Linked DNA regions of Homo sapiens: region 2 is linked to region 1. The links come from fine-mapping of genetic effects on gene expression. A gene starts in region 1. The other region holds a variant in brackets. All regions are shown on one strand. Distances are between the middles of the regions.

Evidence for each region. PIP is the estimated chance that this variant, and not a neighbour inherited with it, causes the effect.
Region 2: its variant is the best candidate, but not a certain one, in a credible set for the expression of ENHO in liver (GTEx, PIP 0.80).

Annotation. Positions count from the first base shown.
Region 1 is chr9:34,519,052-34,528,602 of GRCh38, reverse strand. ENHO (energy homeostasis associated) reads left to right here and starts at 5,613. Exons shown (of 2, transcript NM_198573.3): 1 at 5,613-5,826; 2 at 6,747-7,560. The coding sequence starts at 6,908. The coding sequence ends at 7,138. It overlaps DNAI1 (dynein axonemal intermediate chain 1), which reads right to left. Exons shown (of 20, transcript NM_012144.4): 20 at 7,619-7,945. The coding sequence ends at 7,847. RefSeq lists silencers at 5,188-5,557, 5,578-5,687 and an enhancer at 6,317-6,869.
Region 2 is chr9:34,538,570-34,548,120 of GRCh38, reverse strand. No RefSeq gene overlaps it. Among named protein-coding and RNA genes, the nearest start is that of ENHO, 20 kb to the right of the region's middle. RefSeq lists a silencer at 1,150-1,229 and an enhancer at 825-1,324. The variant A/G (reference allele first, on the strand shown) is at 4,930.

The DNA of each region.
Region 1 (9,551 bases):
CTCTCTCACCACTCCTATTCCACATAGTGTTGGAAGTTCTGGCCAGGGCAATCAGGCAGGAGAAAGAAATAAACAGTATTCAATTAGGAAAAGGGGAAGTCCAATTGTCCCTGTTTGCAGATGACATGATTGTATATCTAGAAAACCCCATCGTCTCAGCCCAAAATCTCCTTAAGCTGATAAGCAACTTCAGCAAAGTCTCAGGATACAAAATCAATGTGCAAAAATCACAAGCATTCTTATACACCAATAACAGACAGGCAGAGAGCCAAATCATGAGTGAACTCCCATTCACAATATCTTCAAAGAGAATAAAATACCTAGGAATCCAACTTACAAGGGATGTGAAGGACCTCTTCAAGGAGAACTACAAACCACTGCTCAACGAAATAAAAGAGGATACAAACAAATGGAAGAACATTCCATGCTCATGGATAGGAAGAATCAATATTGTGAAAATGGCCATACTGCCCAAGGTAATTTATAGATTCAATGCCATCCCCATCAAGCTACCAATGACTTTCTTCACAGAATTGGAAAAAACTACTTTAAAGTTCATATGGAACCAAAAAGAGCCCGCATTGCCAAGTCAATCCTAAGCCAAAAGAACAAAGCTGGAGGCATCACGCTACCTGACTTCAAACTATACTACAAGGCTACAGTAACCAAAACAGCATGGTACTGGTACCAAAACAGAGATATAGACCAATGGAACAGAACAGAGCCCTCAGAAATAATACCATACATCTACAACTATCTGATCTTTGACAAACCTGACAAAAACAAGAAATGGGGAAAGGATTCCCTATTTAACCAATGGTGCTAGGAAAACTGGCTAGCCATATGTAGAAAGCTGAAACTGGATCCCTTCCTTACACCTTATACAAAAATTAATTCAAGATGGATTAAAGACTTAAATGTTAGACCTAAAACCATAAAAACCCTAGAAGAAAACCTAGGCAATACCATTCAGGACATAGGCATGGGTAAGGACTTCATGTCTAAAACACCAAAAGCAATGGCCACAAAAGCCAAAATTGACAAATGGGATCTAACTAAACTAAAGAGCTTCTGCACAGCAAAAGAAACTAACATCAGAGTGAACAGGCAACCTATAGAATGGGATAAAATTTTTGCAATCTACTCCTCTGACAAAGGGCTAATATCCAGAATCAACAAAGAACTCAAACAAATTTACAAGAAAAAACCCCCTCAACAAGTGGGTGAAGGATATGAACAGACACTTCTCAAAAGAAGACATTTATGCAGCCAACAGACACATGAGAAAATGCTCATCATCACTGGCCATCAGAGAAATGCAAATCAAAACCACAATGAGATACCATCTCACACCAGTTAGAATGGCGATCATTAAAAAGTCAGGAAACAACAGGTGCTGGAGAGGATGTGGAGAAATAGGAACACTTTTACACTGTTGGTGGGACTGGAAACTGGTTCAACCATTGTGGAAGACAGTGTGGTGATTCCTCAGGGATCTAGAACTAGAAATACCATTTGACCCAGCCATCCCATTACTGGGTATATACCCAAAGGATTATAAATCATGCTGCTATAAAGACACATGCACACGTATGTTTATTGTGGCACTATTCACAATAGCAAAGACCTGGAACCAACCCAAATGTCCAACAATGATAGACTGGATTAAGCAAATGTGGCACATATACACCATGGAATACTATGCAGCCATAAAAAATGATGAGTTCATGTCCTTTGTAGGGACATGGATGAAGCTGGAAACCATCATTCTCAGCAAACTATCGCAAGAACAAAAAACCAAAGACCACATGTTCTCACTCATAGGTGGGAACTGAACAATGAGAACACTTGGACACAGGAAGGGGAACATCACACACCGGGGCCTGTTGTGGGGTGGGGGGAGGGGGGAGGGATAGCATTAGGAGACATACCTAATGTAAATGACAAGTTAATGGGTGCAGCACACCAACATGGCACATGTATACATGTGTAACAAACCTGCACATTGTGCACATGTACCCTAAAACTTAAAGTATAATAATAAAAAAAAGAAAAAAGAAAAAAAAATAAGAGGTGAAAAAATGATTACATGCTATTAATTGTAAGACACATTCTGATTACATATTTGTTTAAACTGGGGGAAAAAAGTACACCTTAGAACCAATCAAACATGTTATTAGCAGATGGAATTTCTCCAAATGAAATTGATAGGCAGCTGATTATGGTTTTAAAATAATTGCATAATCTATTGAGGGAAAAGCCCTTATCCAATCCTCCTAAGTGTAGAGCTCTGTGGTTGTTCAATCCCAGGATAATCTGTAAAACACCACCAGAAGGTGTAGTGCTAATCAGTACAGTGCCGCACAGAGAAATCCTCCATAATGACCCTCTCAAAACACTGGATAAGGGATCTCTACCTTGTGGGCAAAAATTAAGGCAGCCAGATTGGCCGACCAAGGAACTCCACAGCCAAAGGAGCAAGTCAACAAACAGATGCCATGAGATTTGCTAGTCCTATCATTTCATTATTACTCATGGCCAAAAACATCTACAGTAGATGATGTTCTGGATTAGTGACCAATGCACAGTGCTTCCTTTTCACCCCATTTTATTCTCTATTTCTTGTATCTCTACATATCAGGACTTTTTCATAGGGGGAGTAGTTTAAAGATAGTTCAAAGGCAGTTAAAAGGTAGTGGGATTATTAGAAGCCACATTTCATACCTCATGGAGACCTCACTAGAGCATGAAGGGACATTACCTGGAGAACCTATATCTGAAGAACAGTGGTCCTGATCTGTGCTATGATCTCCAGAAGCAGCAGCTGGATGTGTCACTGAATTGTTCTTCACTGGAAAGGAGGCAAATTTATTGGCATTTGTATCGTGGGATGATTGGATTATGTAGATGAGGGCCTTTTTGGAATCATATAATAGGAAATGATGTATATGTGTTGGGCAAACAAAGGGTGGACTGTATGGACACCTGCCATTTTGCTTCTTTATGATGCTGCTTCCCCTGGAAACCACCACCTCCACCTCCCCACTGCCCATAGCGTTATCATGTTAATCAATTTGATCTTCATCCCTTGACCACCATTGATTAGTCCAAAGGTAAGCATCTAAGTTGAATCAAAATATTTCCTGAAAATTTTGCAAACCAAAAAAAAAAAAAAAAAAGAAAGGAGGAGGATGAGGAGGATGAGGAGGAGCTGGCAGCAGCCAGTCTCTTTGGATGCCTACACAACAAGCTTTAAAACTTTAGAATTGTCTGAAGTCCCGTTTTTTACCATGTGGTCTAGAAGCATATTGGAAGTCAGTCTGGGGATGGGGAGGACAGGGACTTGGGACAGGGGAGGGAAATGGAGGCAGGCAGAAAGTAACAGAGTTGAGAGGTAGAGAGAGAACTCTTCTGGGTGGCTTTTGATCTCTTAGTTTCAGTTGTTCCTGAGTCATCCTTGCCCTTAGGTTTCCGTATCTGATTATAAATTTATCTTTTTGCTTAAACTAGTTATCTCTCTCCCTGGGTGAGCTCATCTATTTTTCTCATTTAACTACCATTCTTTTGCTGACAACTCACAAAATATTATCTTTAGCCTGGACCTCTCTCCTGAACCTGTGTATTCAGTAAATGGCATCACAGCATCCCTCGTCACTAACCCGGGAGTCATCCCAGACTTTTCCTTCCTGCTTACCTCCCCTATCCTCTAGTTCTCTAAGTCCCACCAGCAGCAGCTCCCAAATATCCTCAATGCTCTCCTTTTCTCTCTACAACTTTTTCCTTCCATCATTTCAGTCCCTTATTATTAATCCTTGCCTTCACTCTCAAATGCTTTCAAGCCCCCATTCCACACCATAGCCCAAATCATCCTACTAATTTCTGGATATGATCGCATTACTCTTCTGCTCAAAAATTCTTCAGTGGCTCCCCACTGTTTTCAGGATAAAATCTGAACTCCTGCAGCTGGGTCACAAAATTCGCTCACATTACACTCAGATGTGCGATGATTTAAGTCTCCTCTGTTTCCTATAACTAGGCTGATCTTTCTCACAATGCCCTCACCCTGCTGGGTAATGGGCAGTGGGGGGGAGCTAAAAGTAATCCACTCTGGTAAACTCTATAGGATCCAATAATTTATTTTAGACAGTCTCTAAGTACTTTGGTAGCTTTGGATGACTCAGTCTTCCCTTTCTTCTTTCAAGATAGCATCTGGATTTACAGGGGTCTTATGTGAATTTCATGGCATTGGATTGGGGGAAGGGGCCTCTTAGTCACATGGTCCTGGGGGTTGTGTCAGCTGGCATTTGCTGAGATGTGATCGATCTGCTATAAATTAGTGAATAACAACCCTGAGAGGTAGCATTACAACCATTTTACAGATGAGGAAGCTGAGGCTAAGAGAGATTTAGTAACTTGCTCAAGATCACAAAGTTAGTAAGTGAACCAGGAATCAATACTGCCCCGATTACAGTAGGCACTTAGTTATATGAGTCTAGGATTCCAGAGAGAAGTTAAGGCTAGACTTGGGAGCACTGGGAGTCTTCATGATATAGCTTCAGGGATGTGATCCTCCAAGGAGAGCATGTAGAGCGGGATGAGAAGACGGCCGGATCAGAATAGGTGACAATCACTGGCCTGTGAAGGTCGGGGAGGACAAGGTCTACCTCACTGCTCCTGTCCAAGCTATCTTCTTCTTAGGGGAGCTTTTAGGATGGCAAGGCAGGATTTCCACCACGCCTGCACCTATTCCAGCCAGGGCAGAACCATCGCTCAGGACACTCCATTTCTGTCCCAGACTCCCCAACAGCCTGGCAGCAAGCCTGCGACCAACACTGGGTAGGAACTCAGTAAATGTGTCCAAAGAACCTGTGTTGCCAGAGATTTTCACACCTCTTAGGGCCAGGGAACCTGGGGCCCTCTAAAGTGGGAATGCAGAGTCCACACCCAGGTGGCAGAGGGAAGTGCGGGACTGCACTATAGGCGGTTCCCTAGGTGAGGAGATTCAGTCTCCTGCCAGGTGTGGGGACGCGGGGCCTTCCTCCGGATGACTTACTTAAGAGACCTCTCCCAGATACAGAGGGGTGGTTTCCTCACATGTGGAAATGCAGAGGCCTTGGCCTTTCTCGGATGTGGGGTGTACAACCCTTCCAGGTGTAGAAGGTGCAAGAAATCCCTACCAGAGGTTAGGCCTTGCCCCCACCCCATCCCCTCTCCCGGGAAGGATCCAGGGCCAGCTACTCCTTCGGCCCTCCTCCCGCCCCGCGCCGGCACGAGAGGCGGGCTGGTCCCCACCTCAGCGCACCACCAATGGTGCGGGAACCGGGGTTCGGCCAGCCAATTGAGTGGCGGCAGCGGCGCTGGGATGGCTCCGCCCCCGGGCCGCAGGCCGCCGGCCTCCCAGGAGGCGAGGCTCTTCGCTGTTTTTGCTGGCCGCCGAGCCCGGCCGAGCCCAGCCGAACGTAGCCGAGCCCAGCCGAGCCCAACCGAACGCAGCCGAGCCCAGCCGAACACCGCGCAGCTCCCGCCGCCGCCGCCCGAGCGCTGCCGAGCGAGCGAGCGCCGCGGCCGCGGAGGAGGTGCGGCCCCAAGGGGAGGAGGTGCCCGCTCACCGCAGACCGCCCGCGGCAGAGGCCGCCCCGGTCGCGCCGCGGCGGGAGCGGCCGGTGGAGGCTGCGCGGCCGAGGGGGAGGGCCGGGGGAGCGGACGTCGCCTCTGCTGGTCTCCCACCTCCCGCCGCCCCCCGCCCGCAGGCTCCCAAGCCTTAGTCGGCGCCGAGCATCCCGCTGCCCCGGACCCTCCCGCGGGCGCGCACCAGGCTCAACTCAGGTAAGAAGGGCCTCCCGCCACGGGCACGGGGGCCAAGAACACGCGACCCGAAGATGGAGATAAAGAGACAGAGACACACTGCCGCGGAGAGAGACGAACACAAAGACAGAGACACAGGAACCACCGAAAAGACCCCACGGAGAAGGGGATAGGGACACGTCCATGGGAACAGAGGGGGATACAGCCTGGAAGAGAGAGAGAGACACAGAGACTGATGCAGAGATACACAGAGACACACTGGTAGAGAAATGAGACATAGAGGAGACATACTCAGAGATGGGGACACACGGAGAGGCAGCCACACACACAGAGGTGGGTGTGCAGAGGCACAGGCACACATCCAACGGAGGGACAGTGAGACACCAGACACACACACACACCTGACCCAGAGAGGCAGCCCCACATAGAGGCACACAGCCCTGGACGCACAGAGCCTGCACATGCCTGCCAGGGCCTCCACAAAGTTCCCTCTGTGCAAGCTGGCGCCTCTGGAGGTCTCCTGGTCGGGCTGGCTGGAGTCCTGGGAGAGAGGAGGCGCCCAGGCCACACCAGAGCTGCTTACAACCCCCATCCTTTTGGGCTGGGGGCTTCCTGGATCCCACCCACCAACAGAGGGCTTTTGAGGGCTGCAAGCTTGGTGGGCAGGACCAGGGCATGCCCACCAGGTCTAAGGAGAATGAGATGACGGCTGCCTACTGCAGCTTCCCCACGGTGGCTACACACTCATTCAGGTGGCCAGAACCAAGCCTGTGGATGGGGGTGATGGCTCTGTGGGGTATTCGAGCCTGTTGGGACCCAAGGTCTTTCACCAGGGAGGCCAGAAATGTGGGAGGGAGGCTCTCTTCCCTACCTCTCTCCTCCTAGGCCTCACCCCACCCTTCCTCCTCACCACCCTCTCCTTTACTGTATACCCCCAACAGGCTCAGGACTGCAGGTAGACATCTCCACTGCCCAGGAATCACTGAGCGTGCAGACAGCACAGCCTCCTCTGAAGGCCGGCCATACCAGAGTCCTGCCTCGGCATGGGCCTCACCATTGAGGCAGCTCCACTGTCTGTGCTGGTCTGAGGGTGCTGCCTGTCATGGGGGCAGCCATCTCCCAGGGGGCCCTCATCGCCATCGTCTGCAACGGTCTCGTGGGCTTCTTGCTGCTGCTGCTCTGGGTCATCCTCTGCTGGGCCTGCCATTCTCGCTCTGCCGACGTTGACTCTCTCTCTGAATCCAGTCCCAACTCCAGCCCTGGCCCCTGTCCTGAGAAGGCCCCACCACCCCAGAAGCCCAGCCATGAAGGCAGCTACCTGCTGCAGCCCTGAAGGCCCCTGGCCTAGCCTGGAGCCCAGGACCTAAGTCCACCTCACCTAGAGCCTGGAATTAGGATCCCAGAGTTCAGCCAGCCTGGGGTCCAGAACTCAAGAGTCCGCCTGCTTGGAGCTGGACCCAGCGGCCCAGAGTCTAGCCAGCTTGGCTCCAATAGGAGCTCAGTGGCCCTAAGGAGATGGGCCTGGGGTGGGGGCTTATGAGTTGGTGCTAGAGCCAGGGCCATCTGGACTATGCTCCATCCCAAGGGCCAAGGGTCAGGGGCCGGGTCCACTCTTTCCCTAGGCTGAGCACCTCTAGGCCCTCTAGGCTGGGGAAGCAAACTGGAACCCATGGCAATAATAGGAGGGTGTCCAGGCTGGGCCCCTCCCCTGGTCCTCCCAGTGTTTGCTGGATAATAAATGGAACTATGGCTCTACCCTGAGGTTTTCTTCTCTTCCTGAGGGCCCTGTGGTAGCACAATTAAAGGTGTGGGGTGGGTTTCTACACAGGTTTATTTGTGCAAAGTTAGAGGGGTAATGGTGGTTGAAGACCAAGTCCTGGGGTAAGGTGCTGGGACCTTAAGGAACAGAACAAGAAGGGAAGATGCTGGGACCTGATCAGGAGTGGGGTCACATGCTGGGTGCTAAGGCTGGGCTGGGTACCAGGGTCAAGCCCTAGGAGTACTGTATTCAAGCGATGGGACAGAGACTGAGGCCAGCCCCTCAGGTCTTGATTTTCACTTCCCTCACCAGGTTCAGCAGTTTGTCCAGTTTCGCAATCTCCACAGCTGGACCCTTCTGCACCTCCTGCCCCTTCTTTTCCTGGGGAGAGGGAAAGTATACATGAGGGAGGAATGGTGGGCCCCCCCTCTCTGGGTCCCAGCACCACCTCCTCTGCCCAGCCTGTCCAGCTGTGCCCTACCCCTCCCCTGCCCAGTAAATTCTGGATCCCTGCCTCCCCTCTCCCTGACACGATCATTCCCCAACTCGGGTTAGGTGACACAGGGGCTCAGCTGACAGCTTGCAAAAAGGAGTCCAGCTCTGGCTTGAACCTCAGATGGACATGGGGTCTTGATGCTTGTGGGAGTGGGAAAAGGCATCCATTCCCTGACCCTCAGGGGAACAACCTTCCAGGCCAGGGAAATCCAGCTCTGCGAAGGCGGGGGGCTGACTGCTGGCACCATCCTTACCATGGGAAGGTCCCTGGCCGAGACCTATCAAGGAGCTAATGGGTATGTGTTTGGGGAGGGAGGGGCTGTGGACAGAGCCTCAGGGGCCCGGACCTCACCTAGTCCTCTCACCTGATGCCTTCAGGTCAGGTTGGCAGTGGGTGCTATTTGGGGCGAGACCTGCTGTGTCAGACATACCCAGGGTTGGGAAGAGTGTCAAGAGACCCATAAGGGCAGAGGGAATAGTCCATGTGACTCCAGGTGTCGTTGGCTGAGGTTGTCCTTTAGAAGACCAGATCCTGAGTTTATGACCCAACACCCTACCTGCAAAGCACTCCAATCCTTCCATTATAAGTTGGACACTGGAGTGTGTGTCACCCACAGGTCCTGAGAACTCCTTGGCAGACCAGCACCAGTCCCACCCTCCCTGCTGTCCAGGCAGGGGGGTGAGGGCTGTGCTGGGGCAGGCTGGGCAGTTGCCATTTCCCCATTTCCTGCCTTCGCTGTGCTCCTGGGCCCCCATCCTCTCAGCCACCTGTGCCCACTGCTCACTGACACCTACCCCAGCCTTACCTTGGTCTGGCCAGGGCTGTAAAGGGGATGGGGAGGGGTGAGTGCAGGGCCAGTAGGCCCTTCCCTGGCTCCTTTTTGGCTGCTGTCACCATGTGGAGCTCAGATTTCCCCCTGCTGTGACCCCATACCTGCTCCCAAATTTTCTCCCCTATCCGCTTGCAGCCCAGTGCCTTTTTGCCACTACCTAGCTCACCTCTACCCTCTGCAGGCAGAGCACAAAAAAGCTCTTTTTCTCTCTCTTCCCTCTCTCCTTCCTAAATTAAGCTTGGGTTCTCTTCTTGGCTTCACCCCATCCCCTGGGAGTTAGGGGACCTGGTTTTAGTTCCAGCTCTGTCATTAACTCCCTATATGACTTTGGGCAAGGCCTTTGCCTTTCTGAGCTTCAGTTTCCCATCTATCCTGTAGTTAGGGAAAGACAGTCTTTGGCCTTGGACTCTTTGGGCTCTTGACACCCATCATGGGAGCTCCCTGGGCAGGGAGGTCCAGACCTCTGTGGGGAAGCCATTTGGAAAGGGCAGGGAGTCTGCAGCTCACAGAGGAAGGGCAGTAGGGATGCCCAGAGGATTTTGTTTTGCATGAATCACTTGGCTGATAGGGTCAGATGGCAATTTCACGGGAACCTCTAATCCACTCAAGTACCCACCAGCCCCCACCTGTCCCTTCTCAGGTCCTCAGAGACGTAGGTC
Region 2 (9,551 bases), 20 kb before region 1:
CCCACATCTGGTGCGTTCCCAGCAGCCAGCCAGGAAAGAGGGTGACACTAGGCAGGAATCCTTCCTGGGCAGCCTCCGGCCCTGAGAACTCCCCGGAGCCTGTGAGCTCGCTGCCTGTGTAGGAGGGAACTCCGAGAAAGTTCATTCTCACGTGGAGAGAACAGAATCCCCGGCTCCAGTCCCAGTCCTGCATCCTGCACCTGCCTGTCTTCAGGTCCTGAGGCCCACAGCCCAGAGCCACAGGACCCTGGGAAGGCGGTGCCTGCCTGGAGATGCAGGGCTAAGGTCCTGGGGGCAGGAGTGATTGGAATGTAATCTCCCTACCTTGCCTCTTCTCAGAGGAGGGGGAGAGGAAGGAGGTCTGAGGAAGGGCATCAGATGAAGCCAGTTTGGGGAGAGGCTGGAAGGGACCTGACAGTGCCACTCTGATGGGAAAGCCAATCTGAGGGTGAGTGGGTCTGAGAGGGCCCACGCGACAGGGTGAGCCTGAGCCAGAGCGGGTCTGGGACACGCATCAGAAGAGCTTTCGTTTGAAAGGGCCAGCCTGAGGGGTAAGCTGACCCAGGGGTGTCTGAAAGGGCCTGGTCTGGTGGGTCCAGTCTGAGGGGAGACTGAGCTGAAGGCACATGGATCCAAAGACTAGAACCGCCAACTAGTTCTAGTCTGCCTGAACTTTCCCAGTTTTAGCACTGAATATCTCAAGTCTCTGGAAACCCCTCAGTCCCAGGCAAACTGGGACGTCGATCACCCTGTTTGGGAAGGCCTTGCCTGACAGCACCAGTCTGAGTGGGGAGGCTGGTCTGAAGGACTTCTGAGGGGGGAGGGTGGTCTGGAGGACGTCTGAGCAAGGAGGCTGGTCTGGAGGATGTCTGATGGGGGGAGGCTGGTCTGGAGGATGTCCGATGGGGGAGACTGGTCTGGAGGATGTCTGAGGGGCCTGGTCTCATAGTTCCAGTTTGAGGGAAGAGCCTGTTCTAGGCCAGAAGGCAAGAAGGAGGTAGAAGGGGTCCTTCCAGAGGGGCAGTGGCTTGGGGAATGGCCACCAGGGGGCAGGACAGGTTCTCAGGAAATTCAGAAGCAACCGACCCAGAGAAGGAGCCGGACTGTGGGGCTGTGTGCAAAGTATGCCCACAACAGCATGTGTCACTGAGCCGTCACGTGCAAATGGCAGTGATGGTATGCAGCTGTGCACCATGTTTGTTTTACTGTGGCTAGGTGACCAGGGATGCATATGTGCTACATTCGTGTGTGATGGCGTGTGCCTGGTGTGGCCATGGCTGAGGCTTTACCTGCGGCTCTCAGGACGACAGCAGGAACACCTTGGGCATTACCAGGACAAGGGGGCACTGGGAGAGTAGCACTCAGAGGAAGGTCTCTGGGAGGGGCTGAGGATGGGGAGGAGAAATGGGAACCAGGCTTCCCTACTACACCTGCCCCGCCCACCATTAGTATCCCTGAGATTCCAGACCCAAGAGCTAAGTGCTTTGGTCATAGCAAGGGCAGCCCCTGCCTGGACCCTGCCTGCCCACCACTCCAGCCTCTCCCTGGCTTCTCCAGCTGGCACTCCTCCAGCTGGACTCCTCCTGCTCCCCAGTAATTGTTCCCATCCTCTCCTACATCCATGCCTTGGTTCATGCTGTGTTTCTGCCCAGATGCCCTCCTGAGAAGCATTTGAGTTCCCTCTGACTCTGTCTCCATGAAATGCTTCCTGCTTATTCCCTCTCTTCCTTGGACTGAAACCCACTGTGCGCTGAGGCCTAATTCTATGGGCCCTTGTCTCATCCCAGGAACTTGAAAGTGCTGGGGGCTGGGGCTGCCAGAGGGGCCGGTCCAAGGGGAGAGGTATGGACAAAGCAAGGTGGGGACCACTGAGTTAATGAGACAAAGTAACACCGTCACAGAAGCCCCCCACCCCACCTCCCTCTAATAAAATGAACACAAGCCAAAACAAACAAAAACAACAACGCTACTACAAACTCACTAAGTCCAAGCAAACAAGGAAATCCTTTTTATAAACCTTAAAATGTGACATGCAAAGAAACAACAGAAGATTCTGGTGCAGTGAGTGAGTAGTATGTCTCCTAACCCCATTCCCAAAAAGGTGAGTCCATGAAACACAATATCCTGTCATCTAAGAGAAGTGGACTACTGGGTGCGTAGGCAGGCTTAGGAAAAGTCTGGGAAAAAGCCTTTGTAAGGAGAAGACCTTGTGTTTCTCCATGAGACCTCAGTAGAAGCAAGGAGAGCTGCCATGGCTTGGTGTCTTCCAGGGGATGGGACAGGGGTTGGCGGGGACAAACCAGTGCCTACAGGAATGGGTTATGCCCCGCCCACCAGTTGGAACAAGATGTCTAACAGGGCCTCAGAGGAGGGACAGCACTTAGGCCCCATCAAGGGCAGCAGGCAGCCCTAGCCAGGCACCCTCAGGCCATAGACGTCACGGGGGCAGAGGTGGGCACAGTTTGAAAGCAACAGCCAGCGTGCAAACCATAGGCTCCAGGGGAGACAAATGGGCCCAGACAAGATGGGAAGGGGCTCCAGGGCCTGCACACCAGGGCAAGGAGAGGTCGGCTAAACATGGGCCATGGCAGAGAGGAGTAAGAGGAAAGGAAATGGCATGGCCTTTAGACACCAAGACCACGGTCAAAATGGAGGCAGGAAGGAGAGACGATGGAAGAAAGGAAAGGAGGAGGGAGAGAAAGAAGGAAGGGAGCAAGAAAGATGATGAAAAGAAAACAACAACCGATGAAGACCCCGATCTAGAAGAAAACACACCCAAAGGAATAAAAGCAGAGTCCTGGCAAATCTTTCCTTTTATAGAAGGCCTTTTTAATAGCATGAAATCAGGAGAACAAAGAACTCAGGCAAGATGATAAAACAATGAATTAGATGAAAGGGATATTAGAGAAGCAAGTAAAAGAGGACTGAAATCTTATTTTTAAAGATGTAATAAACTAGAAACAGAGAAACAATCAATATTAATATAATAGATATTAATAGGCTTTAACCATTAAATAGTGGTTAAAAATCAAAGTAATAGGAAAGGCTTGAGATATTAAGAGTAAATGTCGTGGGAAAAGATAAAGCTACTAAAGCAATTGGAGAGAAGGTAATAGGACAAAGACAAGCTACCATAAGCTCAACTATTAACAGCCCTAAAGTAGGGGTTCCAAAAATGGAACTTAAAATGATATTAAGGTACAAAATACAGAAATCTTCCCCTGAAATGAAAGAACTGAATATTCAGATTGAAAGGGGCATACTGTATACCAGAAAAGTTGACACAGAGTAATTGATATTAAGACACATTGATTTGGCTGGGTGAGGTGGCTCACATCTGTAATGCCACCACTTTGGGAGACTTAGGCGGGAGGATCACTTGAGCACAGGAGTTTGAGGCCAGCCTGGGCAACATAGTGAGACCCTTCCGTCTAAAAAAGAAAAAAGATACATTGGTTTAGTTACCAAACTTTGGGGCTAAAGTAAGAATACTTAAGGCACCTAGACAGAAGAAGCAAGTCATTTATTTACAAGGGGGGATATTCAGTCTGGTCTCAGATTTCTCCAAGGTAGCATTTGACAAGTGAAGACAATGAAGCAATATCTACAGAGTTCTGAGGGGAAAAAGTGTCACCCTAAACCGTAACCAACAGAGTGGGTGATCTCAATCATAAATTTGGGGGATGGTGTACTCATGAACCTTTCCAGAAAAGACAAAATCCATTCAGCCAAGAGATTAGTCAAGGTCAGGAGCTGAGGAAGGGAAATTCATGGTAAAGAACTGGTGGGGACATTAATTCCACGTAGGAATTAACCTTAATTCAATTTCAGCGAAGATGACACTGTGGGAATTTTCGTTGCAAAACACTGTAAATACAGTTGACCTTTGAACAACACGAGTTTGAACTGTGCAGGTCCACTTATTCACAGATTAAGTAAAATCAATAAAAGTTACACCAAGAGTGCCTGCCTCTCCTGCCTTCCTCTCCCTCTTCTGCCTCTGCCACCCCTGAGGCAGCAAGACCAACCCCTCCTTTTCCTCCTCCTCCTCAGCCTCCTCAACATGAAGACGAGGATGAAGACCTTTATGATGATCCACTTCCACTTAATGAATAGTAAATATTAATAAATTATTTCTTCCTTATCATTTTCTTAATATTTTCTTTTCTCTAGCTTTAAGAATACAGTATATAATATATATAACATAAAAAATATGTGCAAATCAATTGTTTATGTTATTAATAAGGCTTCTCGTCAACAGTGGGCTATTAGTAATGTCAGGGGAGTCGAAAGTTATATGCACAGTCTGGAATGGAGAGGTGAGGTAGCAAGGAAAGCAGAAGTACTAATCACATCTTCGTTCATAGCTAAGTCAATAAAGGGATAAAACTAGAATATAATGGTAAAATCCTACTCCAACCTCCTTTTCTTTTCTTTTTTTTTTTTTTTTTTTTTTTTTGAGGCAGGGTCTTGCTCTGTTGTTCTGGCTGGAGTGACATGGTGCTATCACAGCTCACTGCAGCCTCGACCTCCTGGTCTCAAGCAATCCTTCCACCTCAGCCTTCGAGTAGCTGGGACCACAGGCATGTGCCACCATGCCTGGCTAATTTTTAAATTTTTGTAAAGACAGGGTCTCTCCATGTTGCCCAGACTGGTCTCGAACTCCTGGGCTCAAGTGATCCTGCTGCCTAGGTCTCCTAAAGTGTTGGGATTACAGGCGTGAGCCACTGCGCCTGGCCCAATCTCTTAATTGAAATGGCTCTTGAGAGAGGTCTTTTAGGAATGACTACTCTTTTAAGGTGAAGAAATATTTCAGCTATTCCATTTTCGCTTCAGTTTCTTTTTTTCTCTATTAAACTCAAGTAAACGTACATTTTCTACTTTTGGTTAAAAAAATAGTTTCTTTTTCTTTTTTTTTTTTTTTGAGAC[A/G]GAGTCTCACTCTGTCGCCCAGGCTGGAGTGCAGTGGCGTGATCTCGGCTCACTGCAAGCTCCGCCTCCTGGGTTCATGCCATTCTCCTGCCTCATCCTCCCGAGTAGCTGGGACAACAGGTGCCCGCCATCGCGCCCGGCTAATTTTTTTGTATTTTTAGTAGAGACAGGGTTTCACCGTGTTAGCCAGGATGGTCTCGATCTCCTGACCTCGTGATCCGCCCGCCTCGGCCTCCCAAAGTGCTGGGATTACAGTCGTGAGCCACTGCACCTGGCCTAAAAAAATAGTTTCTATAGTATATCCCATTAGGACTATGAGAACAGTCCCATTCTTAGATATTTTTTCTACCTGACTGGCTCTCTCTCTAACCTCTCTCCTCAATTTTATGTATTATGTATATGGTTACAAAACGTAATACTGATCATTTCTGGGTGGTGAGGTTTTGAGTGCTTTGTTGCATTTTTCTTTGTATTCTTTTGTCTATTTTAGAAAACATTTATCATTTATCTACCTGTCTGCCTGTCTAAGGCAAATCACTTAACTTCTATGAGCCTCCAATTCCTTATCTTCAGCCTGGTAATAACAAAATTGGAGGGCATTTTAAAGACTGTGAGATAATATGCCACTCCCCTCGTGGTAGGCTGAATAATGGCCCCCAAGATGTCCACATCCTAATTCCCAGAACCTGTGAATGTTACCTTATATGGCAAAAGAGACTTTGCAGATGTGGTCAAGGATCTTGAGAAGACTATCCTGGATTATCTGAGGTGTGGTGATATAATCGCAATGATTCCAACAGGAGAGAGGGAGGCAGGAGGAGTCAGGGAAGACAGCAGTGGAATGATGGAAGCAGAGACTGGAGTGCTGTGCTTTGAGGATGGAGTACTGGTCCACAAGCCAAGGAATGCAGGCAGCCATTAGATACTGAAAAGGCAAGGAAATGCATTCTCCTCTTGGAGCCTACAGAAGGAACCAGCTCTGCCAACACATTGACTTTAGCCCACAAAAACTGATTTCAGACCTCTGAACAGTCAATTGTAAGCAAATAAATCTGTGTAGTTTTTTGTTTTTCTGTTTTCGTTTTTGAGACTGAGTCTCTCTCTGTCACCCTGGCTGGAGTGCAGTGGCACGATCTCAGCTCACTGCAACCTCCGCCTCCCAGGTTCAAGCGATTCTCCTGACTCAGCCTCCCAAGTAGCTGGGACTACAGGTGCCCGGCTAATTTTTGTATTGAAGCCACTACATTTATGGTAATTTGTTACAGCAGCAAAAGGAAACGAATGTTTACACCTGTTTCCTTGGCCCAAGGTGACCTCCCCATCCATCCCCTTCATCCAGCCAACTCCTACATGTTCAACATTTCACTCACGTTTCCCTGACATCTGCCCTCCACTGCTGCCCAGAGTGGGGCTGGGCTGTGCATCCCCCAACGTGGCACATGCCAGTCTGTGTGATAGTTCCTCATGGACAGGTCTCTCTTCCTCCCCGGCTGTGCATATGTGAGGATAGGCCTGGGGCCCAACAGAGGACTCAGCTCAGTAACTGTTAATGCATAGATGAATCAAGGAGGGCTGGGCGAGAGGTTGGCGCCTGATAATTACCCAAGACCCTCCTTTCTTGGCGCTAGGATCTCTCCCTTCCCTATGTTTACCTGGCTTTCTCTCCCACCAGTCTGTCCTCCTCCATATACACACATTCTTCCAATCTCTAGAAAACTGATCTGTGTCTATCTCTGACTTCTCTGACTTCTTCCTTTAGTCATTGGTCTAGAACACATTTGTTGACACCTACTAGTGACTCTGGGTAGGCTTATCTTTGCGTGTGTGTGTGTGTGTGTGTGAAAGAAAGGGAGAGATGGAGGCCTGTGAATCTCTTCATGTGTTTTCCCGGCCATGTGGTATGTGTGTAGTTGGTGTAATCATGTGTGTTTCTGTGTGGATGTGTTTTTATGTGCAGGCCTGTGTCTGTGGGTAGGCTTGTCTGTACATACATCTTTGCTTGTATGTATGTGTCTCTGCTTTGTGGGTTGTATGTATGCATGTTTGTCAGTGTGTGTCTGCATATGCAGGGAAGGACACCTTTTGATTTCTGCCCTCAAGGGGCTGGACTGCCTGCTGCAGGAGCTGGTGTGCCAGGATGACTCACAAGGATGTTAACTGAGTTTTGCTCCAGTCACAATCTTCCCTTTCCTGTCTCGTGCAGAAGGTCTGGTCAGGCTTTTTTTTTTTTTCTCCTTGTCTCTTGTAGGGAGGATCTCAGGCCCAAAGCTGAAGTCAACCACAGCCATCTTCCTGACCCTGACCTTCTGGAAACCTAAACTTCTTGAGAGGACTATGCTAAGGCGAAGGGAGAGGAGGTGAAGCAATCCAGACCCCCCGACACACACACTAAAAGACTGAGTCTGTGGTTGCATGGGCAGGGGGGACCCACTAATACTCCCTAATTGTACCCCAGGAGTGGGAGCAGGGTGGGCTTAGGAAGGGAGGCTCCTGGACATTGATCTCCCAACAGGGGCATCTCAGCAGAGCCCATGGGGATCACAGCATAAAATACCCAGGCCCTCTGTAAGCTGGGGAAGATGGGGTGAGGAGAGGGCCCAATCATGACCTATCTACTCGCTCCAGGGACTAGAACCCTGAGGGAGGCATTTATATTTAGTTTTGTTTTACCATTTTAACCCCCTTTTTTTTTTTTTGAGACAGGGCCTCGCTCTGTTGCCCAGGATGGAGTGCAGTGGTGCAATCATGGCTCACTGCAGCCTCAACCTCCTGGACTCAAGCAATCCTCCCACCTCAGCCTCCTGAGTAGCTGGGACTACAGGCATGTGTTGGGAAAAAGGCTTATGGGGTGCCTGCATAGACTAGCCATAAAAATATGGGACAATAAGTTGTGGAAAGCCACAAAAGGCCTCTCAGAAGGAAAGCCTCCTAATTGCCATCATGTTGCCCTGCTCAGAGCAAGACACACTCTCTTATTTGTAAACACTGTTCAAGGAGAAAGACACTCCTTTGAAACACTGGAAGGTGAACAGATGTGCAGGCTCCTAGTTAAGCCACTCCCACTAGCTACTCTCTGATAAGTTAAAGATATGCTGTTTGAGCACAAAGGAGATTCATTTAAACCGCTATTACTATAGATTACGTCTATGACGCATAGCCTCCCTTTCACTGTTTCGCCCTGAACATCTGCTTCTCAGATCTAAGTGATCGTACTCAACAGTGTGGAGACCAGAGCACTGAGCCTTTTGCAGCCTCCATTTTGCAGCTGGCCCCCGGGGCTCCCCACCTTTCAACTCTTGTCTCTTCTCAATCCTTTGTCGCCACCAGACTTCAGGTACCCTACGGGTGGTGTTGAGGCTGGTCCCCAACAGGCATGCACCACCATGTCCGGCTGATTTTTAAATTTTCTGTAGAGATGGGGTCTCCCTGTGTTGCCTAGGCTGGTCTCAAACTCCTGGGCTCAAGCAATCCTCTTGCCTCGGCCTCCAAAAGTGCTGGGATTACAGGTGTGAGCCACCATGCCCAGCCACCATTTTAACCATTATTATGTGTGCAGTTCTATGGCATTAAACACATTCACGTTACTGCACAACCATATAGTTTTTATAAAATAGACATTACTGATTTTGCACACCTTAGCACGCCTACCACTGGGCAGTGTCACTAGAAAAACACATATGGGGAGTGGGGCTGAGACTGTGGAGAGGCAGAGGACATCCCCTGCCCATGCAGGGCAGAGCGGGAGGAAGGATGGGCAGGAAGACCCGCAATGGTGCAGGTGCTCCTGAGCTCAGGAGAGGGTTGGGTGGGCGCTGTGGCTACAGGGGAGGTGGAACCACACAGTCTGTGCTTTGAAAGCCAGGCTGAGGTTCAGGAGCTTTTGCTCAGAATCAGGGGTTCAGGGAGCTGGAGAGACCTGGTGAGCTTTGTGTGTTGGAAAGACTGCTCTGGGGGCTGTGCAGAGTAGGGCTAGGCGGGAAGAGAATGTGGGACCCATGGTGGCTGAGAAAATGAGCAGGCCTAAGGAAGGTTCTTTGAATGATAGGAAAGGCCTGAGAGCCAGCTCTTGCTGTGTCCGGACAGGAGAGGACTAGGCCCAGGGCAGGGAGAATGGGGCTTTTAGAGCACACAGTCGCCATGTCTTGATGAGTGAGTGGTTGGGAGGGAAGGGAAAAGGAAGAGTCTTGTACAGCTCCTGTTGACTGGGAGGCAGCAGGACTGTTTATTGAAACAGCATGGGAGGAGGACAGGCTTTGGGCAAGTGGAACAACTATGGCTCAGACATTCACTCACTTGCCTATAGTCATATACGAAGCAATGGACAGATGAGTTCAGATGCAGACATGTCAAGTGTAAGACCTCTTGGGAGAGGACACTGAATCAGCATAGCAGTTAAGAGAATGACTCTGGGGTCAGACAAACCTAGGCTCCTGTTGACCTTGGGACAAATTTACAAGTTTATTAATCTCTTTTTTTTTTTTTTTTTTTTTTCAGTTTCTCGCTCTGTCACCCAGGCTGGAGTGCAATGGTGCAATCTTGGCTCACGGCAACCTCCACTTCCTGGTTTGAAGTAATTCTCGTGCCTCAGCTTCCCAAGTAGCTGGGATTACAGGCGTGCGCCA